2 separate regions of the Homo sapiens genome follow, and region 2 is linked to region 1. The links come from fine-mapping of genetic effects on gene expression. A gene starts in region 1. The other region holds a variant in brackets. All regions are shown on one strand. Distances are between the middles of the regions.

Region 1 (2,920 bases):
CCTATGAACATTGTTGAACAATGCCTCTCTCACTGTACCTTCATTACTGTTTTTTTTTAAGTTTTTGATAATTCAGCAAGTAAAAAGACGTTTTAACATTGCACTTCTTTGCAAGTGTGCAAACATTTTTCACGCTTATTATCATTTCTGTTTCTCCTTTTTTTTTTTTTTTTAACAGTTTCTGTTCAAGTCAAGGCTTTATCCAACGTCTCCTTCCCATTTCCACCTCCCCACCTTTTATCTCTGGTTTCATCTTCTATTTCTCTTCCCCAGGCCCCAGGCTCACCCTGCTTGACTCTTACTTCTCCGCACAACCACAGGGTAGGCAGGTTCTTCCCCCATAGGTCTGTACGGCTTATTCCTCACTTCTTTCAAAGCTTTTTATAAATGCCATCTTCAAGAGGCTTTCCTTGATCTCCTATCTAAAGCTGCCACCCCTTATTCCTACTCACTGTCTCGCTTCTCCGCATCACTTTTCTCCATAGCATTTATCACCATCTGAGGTTGTATATGTTTTATTTGTTCATCATCTGCTTCCCCATCTAGAGTCTAACTTTGACAAAAGCAGTCAGTATTCCTAGGGTCTAGAGAAGTATGTAACAAACACTTAATAAATATTTGTTGACTGCATAAGCATACTCTAGCTCTATATCTAAAGGTTTAGTCTTGTCTTTATAAAATCCATTTATACACACACTCTTTAAATACCAAAGATGATTACCATTTGCAATATTTGTAACAAATACATTTCTAGATTGCTTTTAAGGTATTATGTTTTTGTACAAGCAGAACGTTAATATTTTTATGTCACTAAATCTTACATTGTTTTTTTTTTCCATTTCAATTACACTTAAAAAATTCTTATTCATTAAAAGATCAGATAACTTTTCACCTAGTTTATTTTAGCATTTTTTATTGTTTGATTTTTTTTTTACATGTAACTCTTTAATGTATAAGATCTAAATTGTTCTGTTTTTATGTAACTGACTGTTGGAGTTTTGTTACTGTTAATCACATTGTTTTATCTTTGAATCATGCCATAATATATTAAAATTTAACTTGAGTATTTTCCTTTCATGGAAAATCTATAGGAGTTAAATCTCAATGGGCATTTCTTAATCATCTCTGGGATGTTTTCATGACAGTGTTTCTATTTTAAAAGCACTTTCCAAGATGGACTAAATCTACTTGAGTTTGTTGTTGTTATCGTTACAAGTTCTGATAAGATACGGAGCAAATAAAAGGAAGTATAATAGGAAGTTGAGTTGCCAGAAGTGGAAATATCAAGGACTGAAGTCAAATCCGCCTCTAGCCACATTTTTCCAGAAGCTCTTGCCAGGTGTTATTAGGATTGGAGAACTGATCCTTTTATTGACACTCTGTTAAGCTCTGTGCCTTACCCGTAGTTGCTGCTTGATAAATTTTTGTGGGCTGAGTTGCACTGATAGAGCATGATGCCTTCCCAGGAAAATATTCCAAGGACCGGCTCTCCTTATCGATGTCTCTTCCGTTTTGTCCTCTTAGTTGCGGTCCAGCACAGAGCTCCATCCAGACCTGCTCACAGATTGCCTCACCGTGCAGTCCCTGCAGCCGGCCACTTCCCCTAGAGATGCTGCTGCTGAAGGGACCGTGGGACGCTCCCCTGGACCCGGGCCTGACCTCTATTCAGGTAAAGACAGCAAAGGCAGAGCCAACCACAACTACCCTTTTTTAGGCCTTTTACTCTGGTTAAAAGGAATGCTCACGTGAGAAAAATTTTCCTAAGATCGTCTGTGTTGTTCTTTATCAATGGGCTGCAAATTGCTCTCCACCCCTTCTGATTCCTGAGCTGGGTGTGGCAGCAGATTGTTTTTTCTCATAAAGAAATAAAATAAAATAATGCATTACCTCTTTTAGTTATGGACTTCTGCCAGAAATTCAGTGTACCCAACCCTCGCAGTTATGTTACATTTACTCACTTGATTTAGACTCGAAGGAAATGTTTCCTCCTTAAGCAGGTAGCAGGCTGCGTGTGGATTTCTTAATGAAACAGTTGTTGTCATCTTTATGTTTTAAAAGGAAGCCCCAGGTCTCTAAGGAAATTTTCACATCAGCAAACCAACTTATAAGAATGTTCATTCATGTTTGCCAACCATTGTGGGAAAGGAGATGGGATGACACTCCCAGACCACCTTCCATCTGCCTAGGTTTGAATAATAGGTGACTATATTTGGAAAATTACATGTATGTAGTAAAAAACAAAAAAAATAAGAAAAGATTAATATACCATAAGGAAGTTATTTTTCTTTTACTCAGCCTGGATTTTTATGCATTTTCTACTCTCTGTAATGGTGATATACTTATGCAAACATAATTAGTGATTGTCCTTACATATGGAACACTCTTACAGTCATGCTATGAAGATGAGAAAAAAGATTTACCAGCTCCACATTCCAGACAATGAGAATTTTCTATTTTCTGTGGGTTGCAGATACTACCCCCACCCCCATCTGATTCCAGAGCCAGGTTTGGCAGCAGACTGTTTTTTTCTTTCGAAAAGTATGAATAAGCCATTAGAATTTAAAATTTACAGATGCATTGCAGTGGAATGGGAGAAAGACATCCTTGTACAACGTTTTAAATTTGACAGTTCTCAGTTGATTCAGATGCAGAGAGAAAGGGCAGTAAGCAAGTATTGCAAGAGCATCAGTCATCAAAACTGGGCCTTAATCATGGCCCATTGGACCTTTATCAGTTGCTTTAAGCACTTACTGTTGGGGACAACATAGCCTCTGCTTTTTGAGACACAGGGAGATGAGACGAAGAAGGGTTGACCAAACTTACAGAGGTTTCAGGTACAGGTTCATATACAGACATCAAATATATCAATGTGCAGTGTTACCAACACATACATAAATATTTTGTATTAAATATATATATA
Region 2 (2,920 bases), 860 kb before region 1:
GGTGAAGAGATCGAGACCATCTGGCCAACATGGTAAAACCCCGTCTCTACTAAAATTACAAAAATTAGCTGGGCATGGTGGTGCGCTTCTGTAGTCCCAGCTACTCAGGAGGCTAAGGCAGGAGAATCGCTTGAACCCAGGAGGCGGAGCTTGCAGTGTGCCGACATTGTGCCACTGTACTCCAGCCTGGCGACAAAGTGAGACTCCGTCTCAAAAAAAAAAAAAAAAAAAAAAAAAAACAGAAAGAGAAACCAGACTTGGGACCAGGCACAGTGGCTTATGTCTGTAATCCCACCACTTTGGGAGGCTGAGATGGGAGGACTGCTTGAGGCCAGGAGTTCAAGACCAACTTGGCCAACATAACAAGTCTCCATCTCTGTTTTTTGAGACAGGTTCTTGCTCTGTCACCCAGGCTGGAGTGCAATGGCATGATCTCCACTCACTGCAACTTCCACCTCCTGGGATCAAGTTATTCTCCTGCTTCAGCCTCCCGATTAGCTGGGATTACAAGCACGTGCCAGCACTCCCAGCTAATTTTTTGTATTTTTAGTAGAGACGGGGTTTCACCATGTTGGCCAGGCTGGTCTCGAACTCCTGACCTCGTGATCTGCCCACCTTGGCCTCCCAAAGTGCTGGGATTACAGGCATGAGCCACCATGCCCAGCCTGACTCCATCTCTATTTTTTAAAAATAAAATAAATAGAAACCAGTATTGGGCATCATTGATCTCAGGCCCTCTCAGGGCACAGAAGTAGGGAATATAAGGATGTGTGTACACACATACACAAAATCATACATGCATTTACCCTTATATTTCTCTACATACGTAATAAAATATGGATCTTATTAGTTTGTTTATTGAAAACCATGACTTCATACCAATACTTCTCATTCCAACCTAACACAGTTTTCATTCTAGTTTTCTGTCCATAATTTATTTTTTTGAGATGGGGTCTTGCTCAGTTGCCCAGGCTGTAGTACAGCCTCAATCTCCTGGGCTCAAGTGATTCTCACACCTCAGCCTCTTTCCTTGAGATGGCATACAGGTGCATGCCACCACACCTGGCTAATGTTTTCTTAATTTCTGTGGAGACGGGATCTCGCTATGTTGACCAGGCTGGTCTCAAACTCCTGGCCTCAAACAATCCTTCTGCCTCAGCCTCTTAATGTGGTGGGATTACAGGAATGATTTGTTAACTGTCTTCTCCAACAGCGAGAAACTTTGCTCCCATTATCCTTAATATTGTACATTTACATACATGTCCTTGGAGATACCTTTCTCTCCCCACTGGGACTCCAACACCCTGTGGCAGACTGCCTCTCTGCCGGGACACCCCTCACCACAATTGGGTTCTGACACTCTGGCCTGGACTTGCCCCTGAATGTATGCTTTCTGATCCTGGTCAGGTTCCGGCCACCACAGCTCACCTCCACCCCACTCATAGCTGCCTATCTTGCTCGACCCTGCACCTGATGACTTTTGCACCTGATTTTTCAAGGAAGGAAAAGAGGAACTATATAGCTTTTCTCTTATTACTTTTAAGCACTTCCATTTCATTTATACTTGGTCATTCAGAAATTAAGAGTTATTTCTACCATGCACTATTCTTAAACTCTGTGATGCCTTTAAAGAGTGCCTCTTCAGTGAGACTGGGTCTATGCTGAGAGTAGAGGTCCTGCCTCCTCCCCCTTTTTCCTGTCCACCACATT[C/G]CTCTGTCTGCCCAGAGTAGGGAAGGCTGCAAACCCTCCCCCCGCCTTCCTCCTAGGAGGTCGCTGCCTGAAAGCTCTGTCCTGCCCGGAGGAAACCAGCTCAGCCTCCAGCTCTGGCCTGGCCTGATAGTCTGCCAGTAGCCAGGCCAGCTCTATCAGTTCTGTGCACGGGGATGCCCTGCGCGGAGGGGAGGGAGGAGGGGGAGAAAGAGTTGCCCGTGGGGCCTCAGGCCTTTGCTGTGCCTCAGTTCCCACACCTCAGAAGAATAAAGTACTCAACCCAGAAGAAAGACTCGGGCTTCCAGACTTTGGTTTGTGAGAGCAACGACATTCAAGGGTTACTCACGTAGACATTTAACAACCCGTAAAGGGAACTGGATGACAGAAATTACAGGATGGCTCCACCCTCGCGAAATGACATATTCATTTGAATGCTTGGGTAATTTCACAACAGGCAGTGCTGGTGGGGAGCAGGTTTTCCTCACTGAAGATGGAAATAAGGGTAATTGCTAATTTCCTTCCCCTGACCTTCATGACCTGCCCAGCTGTCTGCTGCCACCAGCCTCCTTCCACGGCTTTTCTTGTCTAAGGCTTCATGCCTTAAGAAATCAATTTACTCAGCTTTGTTCTGGGCCAGGTGAGAAAAAAAAATCAATGTATTCATACAAGTGGGACAATTGCAAACAAACGGAGTAAGAAAAAATAAATTCAGTTATGTAGTATTTGAGGCTTGAATTCGAGTAAATCAACCAAACTTCCTCCTCGCTTCAGGTAAAAGCATTTGTTGTTGACACAGCGCCACCTGATGGCAACTGGAATCTTGGCAGGAAATAGTCACCTGTCATTCCAACGTTATGCTGCTCATTTCACCTTTTTGTGTGTGTGTGTGTGTGATGGAGTCTCGCTCTGTCGCCAAGGCTGGAGTGCAGTGGCATGATCTCGGCTCCCTGCAACCACCGCCTCCCGGGTTCAAGCGAGTCTCCTGCCTCAGGTTCCTGAGTATCTGGGACTACAGGCGTGTGCCACCACGCCCAGCTAATTTTTTGTATTTATAGTAGAGACGGGGTTTCACCGTGTTAGCCAGGGTGGTCTCGGTCTCCTGACCTCGTGGTCTGCCCGCTTCAGCCTCCCAAAGTGCTGAAATTACAAGCGTGAGCCACCGTGCCCAGCCATCATTTCACACTTTTTTATTTTTAAATTTCAGTTCCCT

The links. PIP is the estimated chance that this variant, and not a neighbour inherited with it, causes the effect.
Region 2: its variant is fine-mapped to the expression of GLIS3-AS1 in atrial appendage (GTEx, PIP above 0.99).

Annotation. Positions count from the first base shown.
Region 1 is chr9:3,897,440-3,900,359 of GRCh38, reverse strand. It overlaps GLIS3-AS1 (GLIS3 antisense RNA 1), which reads right to left and starts at 1,714. Exons shown (of 2, transcript NR_026663.1): 1 at 1,401-1,714. GLIS3 (GLIS family zinc finger 3) reads left to right here. Exons shown (of 11, transcript NM_001042413.2): 7 at 1,525-1,669.
Region 2 is chr9:4,762,317-4,765,236 of GRCh38, reverse strand. No RefSeq gene overlaps it. Among named protein-coding and RNA genes, the nearest start is that of AK3, 23 kb to the right of the region's middle. RefSeq lists an enhancer at 1,370-2,308. The variant C/G (reference allele first, on the strand shown) is at 1,711.